Regions from separate parts of the Homo sapiens genome. Here region 1 is linked to region 2. The links come from fine-mapping of genetic effects on gene expression. Tissue or cell type: testis. Region 2 holds a variant in brackets; the other region holds the start of a gene. All regions are shown on one strand. Distances are from middle to middle.

Region 1 (9,316 bases), 77 kb after region 2:
CTCTCCCTGTTGTTGCCCCAACCTTGACACCAGTGAAACTTCTTTTGCAAAGATTATGACAGTGAGAGGAGTTTAATGTGACTGATTTCATCTTGCTTCTAGCCTCACAGGCTGGCTGTCTTTGCTCATCCCTAGGTGTAGGCCAAGCTAACCATGGGAGGAACTTAGTTTGTAGTCTAACTTTGAAGCAAGGATGATAACAGTCCCTCTCTAAAACGAATTCCCTTGTTGTTTGGGGGCTGAAACTGCCTTTGTAAGGCTAATGAAAAGCCATAAGATTAAGATTATGGGAGGGACCTGAATTCTGCTAAAATGTAGATATAGTTTCTATAATCCCTTATTGTTCAGGAGTCATGTGGTCAGAGGTCACAAGATTTGTGACTTCCCCAATTGCTTCTGTAGGTAACACCACTATTGTAGAACCTAAAATTGGTCTTTTGAGATGTCTTTCAGACTTTTACATTCTGGCAACTGACTGAGCCCACCCAGACTCATTACTCATGACTTCACCTGTCCTGTGTTTCCCATCTAGAAACAAACTCAGTGCATGAGGACTATTTTCCACATTCCTATGATTGCACCCCCAACCAATCAGCAGCACCCAACCCCTCCCTGCCTGCCCACCAAACTATCCTTGAAAAACCCTAAACTCTGAGTCTTCAGGGAGATTGACTGGAGTGATAACCCTGGTTGTTCTGCATGGCTGGCCTCACATTAATGAAAGGTTTTCTCTGCTGCAATACCAGTCTCAGTGAACTGGTTTTGTCTGTGCAGCAGGCAGAAAGAATCCATTAGGCAATTACAGTGGGATCAGCTGCCACTTATCTCCTGGCCAGTTCACTCATTTCTATCAGCTGCGTGGCTCTTGTAGCCATATGAGCTTGTAACCCCTGAACACCAAACAAATATTAAGGGAATAACAGGTATTCCATAATGATGGCAATGATGGTGATGGTGGTGAGTTGAAGGTGGGTTGGAGCTCCACTTTTTTTTTTTTTTTACCGTATACTCTTGAAGCTTTCTCAATCTAGCTTTTATCTCCACTGCTCCACCAAGATGTCCAGTGGTAAATTCTCTGTGCACATCTTACTTATTAGCAGCATTTGACATAGTTAATCACCTTCTGCTCTTGAAACACTTTCTTCACTTGAATTCTGTACCATCTTATGCTCTTGGTGCATATCGTCTCACTGGCCACTATTTCTCTATCGCTTTTGCTGGTTTCTACTCCTTTCTTATTCATATAAAAATTAATGTGCTTGTAGGGCTCATTCTTGATATATCCTCTGTATTCTATCCTCCACTTTCTGCCTTAAGAGATCTTGCTTGGTCTTCTAACTTTACATACCCTCTACACAGTGACAACTCCCAAATACTTACCTTCAGCTTTTAACTTCTCCATGAACTCCAGATTGCTTTGTCTACATTTGCTTGGATATACTAAAGGACTATTAAATATTACATATACAAAACCAAACTCCTGGTTTCAATTCACAAAGCTTCTTTTCTCCTAGCATTTAACATTTCAATAATTATTAAATTATTTCAGTTGTTCAGATAAAAAAAATCAGAACTACTCTAAAGTAGATTTTTTTTTTTCCTCTCATACATTCAATGTATCAACACATCCTCATGGGTCTCTGTGATGGTTAATTTCATGTGTTCTCTTGGCTAGGTTATGGTGGCCAGTTGTTTGACCAAAGAACAAAATAGATGTTGAAGGTATTTTTTTTTAAAGATAATTAACATTGACATCAGTAGACAGTGAACAAAGCAGATTACCCTCTCTAATGTGCATGGGTCTTCCCACTAGCTGACTGGGGGCCTTCCAATCAGTTGAAGGCCTTAAGACTGAAGACTGAAGTTTCCTGAAAAAGAAGAAATTCTTCTCAAGAATTCTTGACTGCAACATGGGAAACTTATATGAGTCTCTAGTCTGCTGCTCTGTGGAATTTTGACTAAAGACTGCAATAGCAACTCTTACTTGAGTCTCCAGACTGCTGGCCTGCCCTATGGATTTCAGATTTGCCAACCCTCACAGGAGCCAATTTGTTAATTTTTTTTTTTCTCAACTTTTATTGGTCCTGTTTCTCTGGAGTACCTTGACTAATACACCCTTATTTCAAAATGTGTCTAATACCTAAACCCTTTTCATCACCTCTACCAATAGCACTTTGGTTCAAGACATTATCATCTCTCTGCTGGATGTTACAATTGCTGCATATCTGGAGTTCCATCTATAGCCCATGAGCCAGGCTGACCCTTTAAAACCGTAAGTCATGCATGTTACTCTTCTCTTTAGTGTCCTCCATTGGCTCTTACCTCATTCAGAGTAAAAACTGGAGTCCTTAGATGACCTCTAAGGCCCTACACTGTTTGGTCTCCTGCTGCTTTCTCTGACTTCATCTCTGTGCCCTCACCTACCTCACTAGCCTTCAGCCACACTTCCTTTAACATGCTAAGCAAGTTCCTACTTCAGGGCCTTTGCTCCTGCTGGAAGTCTCTTTGCTCTAGTCAATTCATCAGGCTACCCAGGAGCAGAACAGCACAGTTTCTTGCATCTCAAGGGAAGCAATGACTTTATCCAGAATGGACTATTCATTTAAGACCTGCTGCAATGTGTGTGTTAGCCAACTGCCTAGGGTGTCATCTCTGACACATGGCCTGGGATCCTTTCAATAGTTGATTTTGATCATTTATAGTCTGATTGTTGTTGTACCTGTGTAAGAGTGGTTGGTGTGCAGACCAGCCAAGGAGCAATGATAAGTCTGCGCATCTGTCAGCGTGTGTAAGTTAGAGCATGGGGCTTCTTGTCACTGCCTGACTTTCAAGTACATCCCAGTTTTAAGTGGCTGTTTTCTAAAGAAACTCTTGTCCTTTCATTGTGGGCCCAAGAAAACATTTGAATTCATATTCAAAAACACTGTACTTCAGTAAGGGAAACACATGAGAAACGTATGGGAAGTAGATACTTTAAATAGACCTGCACAGAGAAAACATCCTCCCCGGTGGCAATGTGATCAGAGAGACCCCATCCCTCCTGCGCTCTACTCCCTGCCCCAGCTCTCATCTCCTGGGCTTTGTGTAAATGGTTAGCTGGCTCCAGAGGTTTCAGTCCTTCCTAGGCCTTTCTCATTGTGTGTCCTAGTAGTCATGGGAGAACCCACAATGTATCCCATGTATCAGAAACGTGATTCTTCTGGGCTGTGGAATCAACTAGACCTTGCTCAGTCTTGACTCTGACATTCATAAATGGTGGGAGAAGGGAGGGAGTTGGACAAGTTATACACTCCTCTTTATCCGTTTCCTCACTTACAAAGTAGAAATGATGCCTACATTATGGGGCTGTTATGGGATTTGAATAGAATAATGTACAGTGAGAGCCTGGCCCACAGTAAACATTCAGTAACTGTGTCTCAGGATGAGTCAGGATGGAGACGGGAGCAGTGCTTCAGAGACAGGCTCAAGACCCTGTCCTCTGGGGCTAGGCTGGTGTGTGAGGTGGATACTCCTGATCTCTGGTGGGACTGACCCCTAGGCCATTCTTCACCTGGTCACCCAAGTGCTCCTCTCAGAATATAAACTTGATCAGGCCACTGCCGTCCTAAAAATGCTGGTGATACTGACCTCAAGTTCAGCCTCCAAATAGCCTGCAACATAGGCCTGGCAGGACCTTCTCTTGGCTCACACCTCCTGTTCTTTGGGCCTCTCACCAGGGTCCTTTCACCACTTTGCTCTAGTCATGAAGGAAACATTGGGTGAGCAGTGCTCTTTGAGCTTGGTTGTTAGAGCAGTCATGCTTCCGTCCTACCTTGCTGGCATTCAGCCATATTTTCTCCATCTCCTTTGCAAGATCTCATGGGAGGTTTTCTGAAATTTAGCCACAGTGTCAACTGGATTCCCCTGCTCCACTGCCTATCTGAAACAGGAAAGAGGTTAGTCTTGTGGGACCAGTTTTGCTTGCATACCTGTAGACTTGCTGTATTTTTTCTTTTAGTTTTATTTTTAATTGACACATAATAATTCTACACATTTATGGGCTAGAATGTGATGTTTCAATATATCTATGTATTGTGTAATGAACAAATCAAGGTAATTATCATATCCATCATCTCAAACATCATTGTTTTTTTGTGGTGAGAACATTCAAAATCCTCTCTTCTATGTTGAAATATACAATACGTTATTAACTGTAGTCCCCCTACTGTGCAATAGAACACTAGAACTTACTCCTCCTATGTAACTCTAACCTTTTACCTATTGACCAACCTCTCCCCATCCTTTGATGTATTTGGTTCTCCATCCCCTCACCTGTAAAATGCTGGGCTTCATCAGGTGATCTCCTGGATTCTTTTCCTGCACACCAGCAGCTGGGGGTTTGCATGTTCCCCAGTGAGGAGCTGGCTCATTGATGCTGCTAGGTCCAAGTGAAATGCTGCACCCACAGCTCCAACTTTATCAGAGAGCCAAGGGAGGCCTTTGCAGAGAGAGACTGGGTGGAGATCACTGTAAAGGGGTGGCAGGCCAGTCAGTGTGGGCCAAGTCAGTCGGGGAGGGAGCAAGAAGAGCAGTCTTGATCTCTGGGATGTTCTCTGCCCTCCTCCCCAGCCCTGGCTGCCCTCACAAGAACCAAACTGTGTATCTCAATCCTAGAATGCGAGGAATGTGCTGCAGGCTGATAGGCATGAAGCGATCTGCTGAGAGGCAGGGAGGAGCCCTGTTCCCCAGGCCTGACAGTGCAGGAGCTGTGGGCCTGCAGGCTGGGCTGGGCTGCCCCTCCCACCCTCCCTGGGCCTCCTGCTGTAGCCGGGATATCAAAGGCTGCATTGTGCATTGAGCAGGCCTCGGTCCCTCGTGTGCCAGGGAGGAGGCGGGAGGAGGGACACCGTTGGGAGGCTGTCCCTTGCAGCACTCTTCTGGCCTGTGTTCCCAAGGGCCTCGGCCAGGGTAGGATGGTACACACATGGGTGGCTGCTTCTGCATCCCCAGGGAGCGGAGTCTGACCCGGGGCCCAGGTGAGTTTCCCAGGGGGCCCTTGGCCTGTGGCTTGGCCAAAGTGGATGGTCCAGTAGAGGCTCAGGGACCTGCTGGGTTGGAGAAACTTTTCTCCCAAAGATGGGGAGATGATTGTGCTTTCTGGCTGCCTCTCCTTCCTCCCTGGGTAAGTGTTTGTCATGCTGGCTCTGTAAAAAGGGAGCAAAGCCTGGAAGCATCTATTTTTTCCTGAAGAAAGAGCCTTTGAGTTTACTCTGTCAGGAGCTGAGCAGCACTGCTCCTGGCTGCCACTCCCAGGGTGTGACTAAGCCCTTCCTTCCTTTCTTCCCGAGATCCCCCCAGGACAGGAAGAAAGTTCAGGCAGTGAGTTCCTCTGTGGCCTATGGGTGGCCATAAACTTGGCCTTAGTCATTCAAGCCTATTTTTGTCAGGGTTGCTGTTACTGGAGAAAAACAGGCAGTTTCCTGCCTCCACCTATTACAGAGTGATTTGTGTGTGAGTGCATGTGTGAGTGTGTGCATCAAGTTGAGGCAATGGAGAGTTGTTGCTCTAAGAAATTGTCAACTCATGGGAGAGTGACTTAGGGTGACCAGCCATTATGGTTTGCCTGGGACTGAGGAATTTGCTGGGATATGTCAGTTCCAGGCCAACCAGGCTGGTTGGTCTCCCTGAAGCAACCTTCTTGCTTTTTTTCAGAGGAGAATCAAGGTAGGGCCCTGTGTTCTCTTGTGTGGTGTTTATCAGGATGAGTGGTGGCTTTGGGGAAATGTGGGGTTAGATTGGTGGGGGGAGGCTTGCTTGGGAGATAGGGGAACATTGCTCCAAGGAATCATTCCTAACCCTTGTTAGAACTCTGTGTCTTCCTGGAGCTCCACCATGGTTCCTGAGAGAAGGAGCTAAGGAGCATCCCCTAGCTGAGGGCTTTCTACTCTCTGACAGACAACTTTCTTCTTTAGTCTTATGACTTGGGCTTGTAGAAGGCACTTGAGGTCATTAAAGTGAACCCAAAACAACCATATTCTGCTTCCTCTGCTTGAAGTCTTGATCTAGGCACCTTGGCACCTACAGCAGGGAGTGTCCCCCCAAATGATGCCCTTGGCACAAAAGGCACGACTTTAGCTATGAACAATTTCGCTTCTCCAGATTTCTCAGATGTAAACACTTTTCAGTCCCTCCCCCTAAGTCCTATTGTCATTGTGCCCCATGAGAGTAGAAACAGCATGGAGGGAGACGTGCAGGACCACTGGTCGGAGATCGGGGTTCTAGATCTGACTTCCTCTAGCTCTAGTTATGCAGTTGTCATCTTGGCTACTCACTTGGTCTTTGAGGCCAAAGTGTCTGGATTTTATCTTGGTTCTTTTACTTGCCTCGACAACTTATTTAACTTCTCTGTGTTTCAGTTTCCTTATCTGTAGCTTTTATGACATGATTATGTCTTCTTCATAGAGCTGTGGTGGAGATTAAGTCTACATGTGAAATGGTGAAACAGTCTGGTGCACAGTTAGTTGAGCACAATAAAATTCACCATTGTTAATTCCATTTTGATGACCCCAGTATAACTCGCGCTCTCCCTGGGCCTCCATTTAATCATATATACAATTTTAGGGTTGTAAACTGCTGTGTAGAGGTGCCTCAGAGAGCTCTGCTCATGTTCCCTCATTCCTACCTAGAGCGGCTCTGCTTCTAGTTGACATCGTCCTTCAGCCAAAGATTTCCTGTAGAACAGAGTTACGCAGCTGAAAACAAACAAACAAACAAACAAAATATTGAAAAAGGTCAAAATCATAATAACACTATCATTCAATTACTTTATTCTTTCACCTTCTTTTTGCCATTGATTACTGGCTGGCACCCCGCATTCACCTTTTCACCAAGAGTTAGCCTGCTATGTATCTCCCTCGAGACTTTTCATGCCATTCCCCCATATTATTCCCTGTATGTGTCAGGGCCTTTCCCTAGCGAGGTTGATATTGGTGTTGTAGGTCCAAGTCCAGTCGATCTGGATATTCCCATTCCAGATTCCCCTATTTATCCTAGAGAAAAGGAACAAAGTATGAGACCCATCCTGGAGCAACTTAATAGTTGTGTGACCTTGGGCAAGTCCCTCATGTTTTTTGAACCTCAGTTTTCCTGGCTGTAAACTGTATCTAATGGTGGTACTTATCCCATGGAACTTTTGTGAGGATTAAATTTAATAATTCCTCTCATGGACTTAGCACAAGGTCTGGCTTTTGATAACCCTTCAGTAACTACAGGCTGTTTTATCGTTAGTTAATATGGGCCACTCCTACATCACTTCCTCCTAATTCCTTACTGGTCTGGAGAAGTCTGTACTTATGTTTCCTGGGGTGCTTCTGCCTTGTGTCTGTTTAAGTGAGAGTTAACAGCAGACACCAAAACAGTGAGTCCTCAGGGCTAATGGACACAGGAAAGGAGAAGGCTCTTGATAGCACTGAGCACTGGACAGCTGCCAGACTAGTTTGTGTGGAGTGACACAATAATGAACGTTGACTCTGACTACTCCAGGCACCTGCATTCTTACATGTGGACTCTGCCTGCAGCATCTGTTCCCTGGGATGGCTCTCAACTGCTCACAGAACTCCCCTAATCAGGGGGGACTGCACATGGTGAGAGGATAGGTTCTGATCAGTTGCTATCATCTCTGACTTCCCCACCCTATCTATGAGTTGTTTCTTGCCATTGCTTAATAAGCTACAGTTGCTCACTTTGGATCACAGAGAAAGCCATGTCAAAGTTTGTTGATCAAAAAACTTCTAGCACTTCACCCTTATTTTCAATGCCTGTTTGAAGAAATTTGGCAGATTTATGCCCTTAAATAGAAGATGTGGAAGAGATACATTCGCCTCTGTTGATCACTGGTGCTTGTAACTTTCCTTTCAACCTTTTTGATAAATGTGAATCATCAGTATAATAACAGGAGATCAAGGGTGAATGCTGATAATAGTAAATGATGCTTCACTTTTGAATTTTAAATGACTTGTAAAGCATTTAAAACTACTGATAATAGAGGATATTAGAATAGTTAGCCCACCATCTAGCTGTAACAAATTTTTGCATTATGCCATGTTATCTTCAGAACTTTACCTTTTTCTTTCTCTTACTTTTTGAAGAAATAAAACATCATAAACATACTTAGGGGCCCCTGGATATCTCTTTCCAATCTCATTCTCCTTCTCTCTCCATGTAGTTAATAACTTTCATGAATTCAATGGTTATGTGCTTTCACTACATATTCATGAACTCACAATCATTCCAAAGAATTGTTTTGCAGACTTTAAAACTTAAACAAAATGATATCATGATGCAACTTTTTTTTTTTTTTTGCTAAACATTATCATCTAAGATATATTCATGTGGGTAGATGTAGCTGTACTTCTAACATGCTATTCGTCCCAACAAGGAGAAAGTGGGTTTACATCATAAAAACTGCTGATGGTAGGTCTGTTAGGTCAAAAAAGAAAAGAAAATGTGGGTACAGGAAAAAAAAAACATGCAGATAAATGTTTACTGTTTAGTCTTCTTTTTAAAGTTGAGCATGGTGGTGGGTGGGTAGGAGCAAAGAGAGGCTGAGAGAGGAGAAATGAAGGTGAATTCTCATTTTCGGCAAGTTGTTGTGAGATGTTTCCCTGATCAGAGGCCCGAGACTTTAGAGTTCTGAGGTCAGGTTAATGTAGAGAAAATGGCAAGGTCCCTACCCATTCCTACCCATTGATTTGGATGGCCTCTGGCGCTTTTGTTAATTTGCTGTGTGATCTCAGTAAAATCATGACTCCTCTCTGGGCCTTTAGTTTCTCAACAGTAAAATTGGGAGTGGAGCTAGGTGATCTTTTAAATCCCTTCCTTCATTCATTTTCTGCAATTCTTGCCTCTTCCCCATGTTTATCCCTCATATTCAATATGTCAAGATGCCTTCTCTTTTCTTGTTTAAAAATATAGCCTCATTCACTCTATGCCCTCACTTCTCATTGCCAGGGCCACAGCCCACATTCTTACACTCACCTCCCTGGATTTTCACAGCACCTCTTCAGCTGGTCTCTCTGCCTATTGTGCTTTTCTCTCCTTATCCTTCCCAGGTTACCCAAGTAGAATTTTCACTTTTGTTATGCCATTGCCATGCTCAAGAATATTTCACACCTCACCATCGCTTACTGTATCCATTCTAAACACCCCTGCCTGCCTTAAAGTGCTCTGCCATCTTGAACCTACCATACTTATCCATTTTAGTCCCACAACTACCCACCTCCCCAGCATGCGCAGGCTGGCTTCTAGCATCCCATGTATGTACAAAGCTCATTCCCAC
Region 2 (10,641 bases):
AGTGGGCTGGGCACAGTGGCTCATGCCTATAATCCCAGAACTTTAGGAGGCTGAAGCATTTGAGACCAGAAGTTTGAGATCAGCCTGGGCAACATGGCAAAACCCCATATCTACCAAAATAAACATACAAAACTTAACTGGGCCTGGTGGCACCCACCTGCGGTCCTAGCTACTCAGGAGGCTGAGGTGGGAGGATCGCTTGAGCTTGGGAGGCTGAGCCTACAGTGTTCCATGTTTGTTACACTGAACATCAGCCTGGACAACAGAGCCAGACCTTATCTCAAAAAAAAAAAGACATACACGTGGCGAATAAATATGAAAAAATAAAAATGCTCAACATCACTAATAATCAGAGAAATGCAAATCCAAACCACAATGAGATACCATCTCACACCAGTCAGAATGGCAATTATTAAAAAGTCAAAAAACAACAGATGCTGGCAAGGCTGCAAAGAAAAAGGGATGCTTTTACATTGTTGATGGGAATGTAAATTAGTTCAGCCACTGTGGAAAGCAATTTGGAGAATTCTCAAAGAACTTAAAACAGAAATACCATTTGACCTAGCAATCCCATTACTGGATATATATCCAAAAGAAAATAAGTCATCCTGCCAAAAGGATACACACACTGATATGTTCATTGCAGCACTATTCACAATAATAAAGATACGGAATCAACCTAGGTGTTTATCAACAGTGTACTGGGTAAAGAAAATGTAGTACATTTATACCATGGAATACTATGCATCCATAAAAAAGGACAAAATCATGTCCTTTGCAGCAACATAGATGCAACTGTAAGGCATTATCCTAAGCAAATTAATTCAGGAACATAAAACCAAATACTGCATATTCTCACTTATAAGTGGGAGCTAAACATTAAGTACTCATGGACATAAAGATGGCAAAAATAGACACTGGGCACTACTAGAGGGGGAAGGGAGGGAGGAGAGCAAGAGTTGAAAAACTAACTATTGGGTACTATGCTCAGTACCTGGGTCATGGAATCAAGTGTATCTCAAAGCTCAGCATCATGCAATATACCCATGTAACAAAACCTGCACATGTACCTTCTGAATCTAAAATAAAAGTTGAAATTTAAAAAAATACAGTATTTGCAGAATTTGAAACCTGCCTACACTGAGGGCTGACTCTTTGTATAAGCAGGTTCCACAGGGCTGACTGCAGGACTTAGTATGCACAGTTTTACCAATCCCCATGTGTACAAAGGGATGATTGTAATCTCATGCTTTGCCTCTATTTCAGTGTTGACATTTGAATCATTGATTAGGAGTTGTACTCAGTGTCAAATGTGTTACACATCCAAGTACCTTTCATAACCCAACAATTAACTGCATGACTTGAAGAAGCCACTGAGCATTAACTACAACGTTTCTGAACACAGCTTCAAATTTTCACCCATAAAATGAGTAAAAACACCCATCTCACAGGTTGGGTGGGACAGTCTGGTGAGCTCAATCAGGGGAGTGCTTAGCATGGTGGCTGGTGGAGAATAAGGACTAAATAAATAGAAGTGAAAGAAAAACTAAGCAAGAGTTTCTATTAGGGACAATATCAGGCATGAGGATCAAGTTAAGAATTTCACATCTCAAAGGGGAGCTTTTTTGCTTAGTCAGGTGACCCAAGGACCTCCTGCCAATGCCCTATCCATATCACCCTATGGCTCTGTTACTCCTTTTCTTGTGAGGTCTGATGTCTACTCTCTGCATTTGCAGACTCGTGGGTTTGGGAGGTACCTCCATGATGATGGAGTTAAGCCCTCAAAGCTCTGTGCTTGCTGTGTCCCCCAGGTGTCTGTTTAGAGAAGCACTTCCTCCTGGGGGGAACCCGGAGGGCTTCCAAGGCTGCTGAGCCATTCTCCTCTGTTCATTTTCCATTACTGCAAAATTCACACACTCTCCCTGCTTATAAAAAGTAGTGGCATTTTTGCCAGTCCTCATATTCTGCAGTATCCAACTCTATTGATTCTTTTTTCTTTTCTTTCTTTCTTTTTCTTAAAAGAAGGATAGTCTGTTTCCTTCTTTCAGGAATACTCAGTGTTACTAATAGGACAAGAGTTCCTTAGCATTCCAGAGAGAGAAAAGGGCAGAGTCAGTTGCCTGTTTCTTTTCTTAGTTCCTTGAAAAATAGATGAGCCATCTTTCTTTTCTGTCACTTAGTGGGAAAGGACTCTCATAAATACATTTTTTTTTCCTAGAGATAGTGAGAAGTGACAGGCAACTCACATCTTTATTTGCCTGAAAACATGCAAATGCAAACATGTGACCCACTAGCTGATAGAGGCTACAGGATTTTCCTCTTTTCCTGAGCCTGGTATGAAGCCAAAACACCATTCCAGCCTGTCAAAATCAAAAGGCAAAATTCTTTGGCTGTAAGAGGCAGAGGGAGTCCAGCCACACTCGCTAGCTTAGCATAGATATGCAATACACAAAGGAAGACAGCAGAGAGATGAATCATACAAATACGTAGTAAATAAATATATTTTATTTTCATCTCAGTAGCTTTTGCTTTTTTTTTTCTCTTCCATGCTAGGAGGTGGGGGTGGGGTGGGGTGTGTGAGGAAATAGTAGGTTTTGGCTGGATACAGCTTCAATAAGGTCTTGATAGTTCTGGCCTTGTTGCTCAGCTCTAGCTTTTTAAGAAAAAAAGTGTAGATTCTTAGATTAGAAGGCTTTCTTTTATTATTATTATTATTATTTTTTGAGACAGAGTCTCACTCTGTCGCCCAGGCTGGAGTGCAGTGGTGTGATCTCGGCTCACTGCAACCTCTGCCTCCCAGGTTCAAGCAATTCTCCTGCCTCAGCCTCTTGAGTAGCTGGGATTACAGGCCCACACCACCACACCTGGCTAATTTTTGTGTTTTTAGTAGAGACGGGGTTTCATCATGTTGGTCAGGCTGGTCTCGAACTCCTGACCTCGTGATCCACCTGCCTCTGCCTCCCAAAGTGCTGGGATTACAGGCATGGAACACGGTGCCTGGCCGATTAGAAGGCTTTCTAATTCAACCCCTCTCATCATACAGATGAGCAGTCTGAGATGCAGAGAGGGGACTGATAACAAAGTCATAGACCCAGGGAAGTGACTGTTCATAGGGGTTCTCTGGTTCAACAGCCCTATGCGATGCTGGAATAACCTAGACAGGCCAAGCTGACAAGAGGGCAGGAGAGTGAGTCTGGAACCAAGATATGCCCTCCCAGGTCACAGCGCTACATTGAAGAGAAACAGACTGTGCCTTCTTGAATTTCGGACTGCATTCTCAGTAGCTGAGGCCCTACCTGGCAGCAAAATATCTGGTCCTGGCTCTGCAAGCAGTTGTTGCCTCTGGCATGTTAGAGCCCTTGGCCAAAGGGCTGTTCCTGTCTTCTTGTTCTCAAGGATAGCTAACCAGCCTGCAGGTACATAGAGAAACCAGCCCTGGGCCCACCGGGCTGCAGGCACTCGGGAGCTGGATCTTTCACAATCTCCAGACCCAAAGGTGGCTTGGCGATTATTTGTTTATCAAACTGCGGCTTCCCAGCCCACTGCCTGCCCACACCCACCTACCCTCCCGCCTGCCCACAGGCCAGCCTCCCTGCTCTTCCCACCTCTGGGACAGGCAGGGCCCTCCATGGTTTTCCAGATGTGTGCAGGGAGTTCTCCTCAGAGCCCCCACAGTCAGACAATGGCCACACACTGCTTCCTAGGCCTTCCCAGGCAGTGCTAGAAGGAGACGAGCAGCCTTCCCAGGAGAGGCGGCCGGCGCCGCTGATAAAATATTGGCAAAATTATCACGAAAAGCCAGAGTCATGAAGCTATCCCTCTGCCAAGGAGCACGGAAAGCACCAAAAAAGAGCCTGGGGGTCATGTGTCCAGAGATGCCAGGCTTCCTTCCTCTTTCCAGGCAGCCCGAGCGCAGGCTCCCTCACCTCCCGCCCCCACCCCTGTTCCCATGGCAAAGGAGAGGAGGATCCACTTACTGCTAGTGTTCATGGTGATGTCTTTGCACTGGGTCTTTCATTCAATACGGAGGCCCCGGCTGCTTTTTAAATCTTCCGTTCTTCGAACCTCACTCATCACCTGGGGGGTGAAAAGGCAGTCCAGTGCCAGCTCTGTATCCTCAGGTGCTCTCTCTCCCTCTGCTGTCCCCTCTCTGTCTGGGCTGTAGCCCCTGGCCTTGAAGGCGCGTGGACTAATAGGCGCAGGTGAGAGCAAGGAGAAGGAGGCGGCAGGACACCGGCGCCCCGGTCCTCCTGCTCCTCAGATTGGAATCCCGGGCAGAAGTGGGGTTGGCAGCGCCTGCTCGCGCGCACCCCGGACTATTCCTGCCCAGCGGCTCCGGAGCCCAAAGGGGGTGTGGACCACAGGGAGGCAGGGCGGGGGCAGCGCGTCCCCGCCCGGCTTCAAGGAGCAGCGACCCGCCCCGGAACCCACCTCTCGGCCAGTGTCGGGAGCCAGAGGCCCCTGCCCCGGCCCCTGCGACTGATTTCATGAATCCTGGTCCTCGTCTGGGGTCTCGAATTCCAGGGCTAGCAATGCGAAATAGGGGAGCTCGACATCCATGATGCGGGCTCGCGGGTTGGCAGCGCAGGGGGCGCGGCCGCTCGCTGCTGCCACCTGCTGGACGCACCGGCGCGTGTCCGAGGCCCCGCCCCGCCGGGCTTCTGCCTGGGCCCTAGGGTGTGATGGGAGATGGACGAGGCCTTGTGAGATGGACGAGGCCTTGTGTCCTGGGACCAACGAGGGAGTGCTTGAGCGCTTGTTTTCCCTCCCTCGATCCTGGGGTTCTAAGGGCTCGACAATGATAGGAAAAGAAACATCATTAGGAGGGGCCGTGAAGGAAAACCTGGCTTTGCAGGAAGACAGTTTCCACCCGGCTCTGCTCTGGCAAGCTTGGCGCAGTCTAGGCTCAAGCCGGTCACTACCGTCTCTGCCTCATCTTTCTCAACTATGAATATGGCGTCTGGACAAGTGGATAACAC[G/A]TAAGGGGCTCTTCCAGCCTCCCAGCGTTTATGTCCCCTCTTCCCTCACAGATTCCCTTTATCCTCTATCGCTGATTCATCATTAGAATTGTTTATTACCTCTTTTCCCCACGAGAATGTTAGCTCCGTGAAAGAATGGGTCTGTCCGTAGGGTTCACCTACAGGCCCCCAATACCTAGCACAGGGCCCGGCATATAGTGGCTACCAATAAATATTTGTTGACAGAGCAACCCAGACATTTTCTGGGTTTAATATTACACAGCCCTAAGAGTAGACTGCCTAGGCGCCCCACCCTGAAACACTTCCCCGTCTGAGGAGAACAGCAGGTATGTGGCCTCACAGGTCCACCCTAGTTTTCATATGGTCAACTAACTCTTCCCCCAAGTTGTTGTTGTTTTTTTTTTTTTTTTTGTAATTATGTCTTATACGTGTGTATTGTAGAAGTTTATATTCCAAAGTGTTTTAGTCACAATTGATTCAGTGGGGTAGGGCTCTTTACATTCCTGTGACTACTTACTCTGTCACTTTCTGAACCTAATTCATGATCATAGAAGCATGACTTTTGAGTGCTGAAAAACAAGACTGTGAGGGCACATGATCCTTGTCTATAGCATGACTTCAATTAGAGCATGTGCAGACTCAAAAGGCTGTGAACACTCACAGCCCCAGCTTAGACAAGGAAACAGGGTGTCAGAGAGGCTGGGCAACGTGCCCTAAGACACACAGCATCTTGTGGCAGAATCGGACCAGATCTTCTCACTTCTAGCTTGATCCTGTGTGAGAGTGGCTCAGTGCACTAAAGTCTGGGATATCAGTGTGAGATTAGATAGCTGCCCTATTAAAATTGGGGAAAGACAAATACGATGTTTTTATACAATGCTTTTAGATAAATACAACGTTTCTACCTTACACAGGGAGGAAAAAAAGGATATGGCTCATGACCCCGAGAGGTGATCAGGATTAAAGAATCTTTGGATAAACCTAAGGATCAATAGATTTGAAACACATTTGATAGATTGTTAAGAATTTTGTCCACATGTTCTCACTCATAAGTGGGAGTTGAACAATAAGAGCACATGGACACAGGGAGGGGAACATCACACACTGGGGCTTGTTGTGGGATAGGGGACTGGGGGAGGGATAGCATTAGGAGAAATACCTAATGTAAATGATGAGTTGATGGGTGCAGCAAACCAACATGGCACATGTATACCTAGGTAACAAACCTGCACGTTGTGCACATGTACCCTAGAACTTAAAGTATAATAATAATTTTTTAAAAAAGAATTTTGTCCAATGGGGTGGAGGTAAAAATAGCCCTAATGTCCTCACGGTCGTTCTTAAAATTTTGTGTCGATAACAAACGCCTGAGATACCTCCAAAAATGCAGATTCCCAGGCCCTGGACTCCCTTGCTCAGCATTTGAAACAAGCATCCCAGGTGATTCATAGACAGCTCTTTGAAAAGGGTAGAGGCCTAAAATAGCTTTGAAAACGTAAGTGATTAGTAAATATTTAAATTATTCCACTTTATGTGTCCTCTACATTTTCAGATGGGATTCCTTGTTCAGTTTCCAAGTTGCAGGTAACTTGCTAGATTCTAATGCTTGGAAAAACATTTTTCTGGGAGAAAGTTCAGATAAATTAGACATGTAAAATTAACTGTTCTATTCCATGAGCATATTTAGTTATCACCCAAGGCCTCAATGTTCAGAAAATTTCAAATTATAAGAAATAGTCAAATGAAAGCATGATATTCATTCATTAGTTCATTCACTCAGCAATTATTTATCGAGGGTATGCTTTGTGGTAGCCCCAGTGCTGGCTTCTGGGGATACCGTGGAGAACAGGACAGACAAGAGCTCTACCCAATAATGGATGATTGCAGAAAAAATAAAAAATAAAGAAATAAAAAGAACTCCAACCTCATAAGCATAAATCCAATCCTGGGACAGCGGGGAGACAATTAACTAAGCAAAATATAAATTAGCTAAACCCGATGGTGGCCTGGGGAAGAGCCCAGGTGCCGTTTCCAGCCTTCCTGACTTTTAATCTCAGCTTCATCACTTTCTAGCTGTCTCACTTTGGGGAAGATACTTAGCCTCTATAAGCCTCAAAGTTTTCATCTGTACAAGGGTACAACCACAGTGCCTACCTTTTGGATTGTCGTATATATTAAAGGACTTAGTGTAATGCATGACAAATAAAGGCTGGTTGCATACTAATTATTAATATCACCCCTCACTTATACCTGCCCTCAGTGACAATGCTGTCATTTTCTACTTATGGAAATCTGTTGGGCTTTTCCACAGAGTGGTGGCCACGAAAATATGCCTGAAAATTTTCAGGTGATTAATTAATTGATAAATTAATTGATGAATTAATGAATTAATTATTCATCAATTAATGAGATTAATTGATGAATTCTTCTTGTCTGGGGTTCTTTTCGATAATGTATCCAGCTAGATGCTGATGACTTCACCTCTTAGAAGAGATCACTGGGTCTTGGGCCACTTTTTAAGGCCCAAATAACATCTGCCGGGGGAACAATCTTATTTTCTCTGCATAGTTTATAAGGATAGGAAAAAAGGGGCTAAAATAAGCTATACAAGCTATGCCCTTGAGGATGTCCACAACAATCAGAGGCAGCGGGAAAGACGCAGGAGGAAGCTGGGGGTGGGATTCTCTGTGGACATGGCTGTGAAAGTCATCAGGGGATCGGTGTTGTTGACTCTGTCCTTGCAGGAGAATGGAGCTGAGAACCACAGAGCAGAGGATCCCTTTGTCTGGAAGTTTGTTTTGAACATTAAGACTCCAGAATGGAGATAAACAAATCTCACCGGGAAACTGGCAAAGGCTCTGGGTGTTGAAAAACCATGTGGCAAAATCATTGGGAGACAAACCTTCCAACTTCTCTGAGGGGAAAAAGGAAAGGTTTTGGGGCCAGCTTCACCCATGGCCATGGCCTTGCACCTCAGGGGCTGTTGCTGGGCTGCCGTTACTGGGCTCTTCTTCACCACAAAGAGCTCCCATCTTTCCTGACTCCCTGTCCCTAACTGGGGTCATCTCAAGCTCTCCTCCTCACTTTCTGCTCCCTGCCTCCCATTGCTGTTATTGACCAAGGCAACTCTTGGCCCCTGACTTTTCTCTCTGGTTGCCTTTCTCTCATTCCCGTCCCATTGCATCTCTGCCTCCTCCTCATCCTGCTCCTGTTCATTTACAAATAAATGCTCACTCACCCTCATCTTGAATACAAAGTCCTTTTAGTCTATAAGGTGTGGGAATGGTGGGGAGGGTGCTTGTAGTCTCATAGTTTCTACTTGCCATCCCTAGACTATCTGAATATCTTACCAAAGGTGACTATTTCTTTTCTTAGTTTTGAAAAATAATATGTTATGGTTAACAACATGAGAAAGATCTATGTATAATTGTGGGGGAGGGTTTTCATAGTATGTGATTAAATAAAAAGAAAATTACAGAAAATAGATACAGTATGTTCTTTAGGGTATTGTATATGTGATGGCAAATGCTGTTGAAGGATTAGACTGGATAATTTCTTCAGTTCCTTTCGCTCTAGTGTTCTTGGTTCTAAGCATAGAGCGGTTGAACCAAGTTTGAAGTTTGGCAGATCTGACCACATTCTCGGTTGGGGTAGGGACTTTTGTTCCCCAAGGGACACCACTGGTTTGTGCTGAGCCCCAGGCCCTGAACACAGAACAGACTTCCCACAGGGAGTGGTGCTTTGTATGAAGCTCTCTGAGCTTCTGTCCCCCTTTCCTCTCTTGGGGATCTCTGAAACCTAGGTAGAATTGATAGGATTTAGACCTGTTTTTCTGGTTGAAATAGCTTTGTGACTGGGCCATGCTTTTCCTCTTGTTCCTCACATTGTTTTGTGGGGAAATGTTAAGGAAAACAAAACCAAAATCAAAGTGGCTCCCAACATCTTTGGGAAGTTTCTTGGGGAAACAAAGGAACTGGCTTTGAGATCAGAGTGCCGGAGGCTACAGCATGGGCTCCAGGGGGGCTCCATGCAGATGGCCCCACCATAGGATTCTTCTGAGGCCTCACACTCACATGTGGCCACAGCCCAAACCTCCTTCCTGATGGTCATTCTTCCAGCAGAAGGAAGGAGCTGAGGTGGAGGCAGCTCTGGATAGGAATTTGGGAGATCTGAAAACTGGACTCAGTGCTGCCATTCCCTTGGCTAACCTTCTCTGGGCTGTTTTTTATTTTATTGGTAGAACCATCTAAAAAAGATGTCAGGGAACATTCTATCCTACGTTCCATTTTACAGATTAGGCATAGAGGGGCTTCACTCTGCTCCTGGGAGCTCCCTTGACCATTGAAAGCTTGTCCATTGCCAGGTTTTGTGGGTTACTCATTATCGACCCACATTTTCTCTTCAGCTTCAGTTCTCCTGCTTGTAGTGCCCACCTCCTCTGTTTCCCTTGAATAAAGCTGGTTATTTCCTCAAGATTCCTTTAAGTTCCATCTTCTTGACTCTGTCCTCAGAGCTCCTCTAGCACTGACTACCCAGGTCAAGCATTGAGAAGGCTCACTCTATCCCATGCCCCTACCCTATCCCCCTTTGGTTTCCTGAGCAGAGGAAATTCGCTGACCTTCCCGTGAATTTGTTCATCTTGGGAACCTTGTACTCACTGCTTCCTATACCTGGTTTGCTCTTTTGATTCTTTACACAGCTGGAACCTTGTTATGCTCTAGATATTACCTTAGTTGCCTCTGCTCTAGGAAAACCTTCCCTTCCATGACCAGTCTAGCTAAATCATCCCTAACAGCATCTTTCATTAATCCATGGAGTAAAAGCCTTTCAGACAACATGGACTTATTTATTTCAGTTTGGAGTTCAGCTAATTAACTCCCATGCCCCCTTCCCCAATGTTTGGTCCTCTTCCCTCTTTATTTCCTTGGCTCTTTGAGACCTAAATTCTGTCTCTGAATATGGTCTTCCAGTAAATGCTTTAGAATCTGCTGAGGATGCATGTCTCTTCTAGTTATTAATAATTACAAATGGGTTCACAGCCACACAACAGTGAAGTCCATTGTTGCCCTGTGCAAGAGAAAAGAACTGGGAATCAGAACATCTGGGCTCTAGTTTGCCCTCACTTCCTAGCTAGGTGACCTTGGGCAATCAATTCATTCTTTGTTTCAATCTACTAAGCTGTAATGAATAATAATATTCACTGCACATTGTTATATGTTATAATTATCCCTTCATGGAATATATCTCAGGATTGTTCAAGGAATGTCATGAGAAACTGTGTGCTTTGTAAACTAAAGTCTGTGCAGAGTAGGTTGTGGTTACATCTCATTATAAATTATGGGTTCAGGTTCAGGCATTTATACAGCATTTATACAAGGTGACATCATATCCCCTAATATCCAGAAAGGGCATGGAAAAGGAAAGGCAGAAGTCAGTGGCTATGTGTGTGCTAGTCATTTCCCCATTGACCTCTGTACAGTACGTTCTACTGCCTGGAGTGGAACACTGTGATCTTGATGTGTTGCAACCCACAGCAATGCCCTCCTGCAAGTGCCCTATAACCTTGGAATGGGAATCAAACCTCGACTTGGGAGAGAACCCCACAGGTTTGATACCCCAAATCATAGAGTTGTAGGAGGCAAGAACTGTAAGAGTTCTTAGC

Direction of the effects. Alleles are on the strand shown, and positions count from the first base shown. SD is a standard deviation of normalised expression in the study named.
For the expression in testis of the gene that starts at base 4,924 in region 1, allele A in region 2 goes with a lower level than allele G (moderate effect, 0.41 SD a copy in GTEx).

The links. PIP is the estimated chance that this variant, and not a neighbour inherited with it, causes the effect.
Region 1: it holds the start of SH3TC2, and the variant in region 2 is fine-mapped to the expression of SH3TC2 in testis (GTEx, PIP above 0.99).

Annotation. Positions count from the first base shown.
Region 1 is chr5:149,058,670-149,067,985 of GRCh38, reverse strand. It overlaps SH3TC2 (SH3 domain and tetratricopeptide repeats 2), which reads left to right and starts at 4,924. Exons shown (of 17, transcript NM_024577.4): 1 at 4,924-5,015. The coding sequence starts at 4,964. MIR584 (microRNA 584) reads left to right here and starts at 5,577; the gene lies at 5,577-5,673. SH3TC2-DT (SH3TC2 divergent transcript) reads right to left here and starts at 4,669. Exons shown (of 3, transcript NR_122044.1): 1 at 4,312-4,669; 2 at 3,628-3,736. RefSeq lists a silencer at 4,666-4,960.
Region 2 is chr5:149,135,445-149,146,085 of GRCh38, reverse strand. It overlaps ABLIM3 (actin binding LIM protein family member 3), which reads right to left and starts at 4,593. Exons shown (of 24, transcript NM_014945.5): 1 at 4,432-4,593; 2 at 3,978-4,077. The coding sequence starts at 3,990. It overlaps LOC124901102 (a long non-coding RNA gene), which reads right to left and starts at 3,970. Exons shown (of 2, transcript XR_007058988.1): 1 at 3,297-3,970; 2 at 2,488-2,653. RefSeq lists enhancers at 1-94, 3,171-3,670, 3,671-4,172 and a silencer at 4,478-4,727. The variant G/A (reference allele first, on the strand shown) is at 4,980.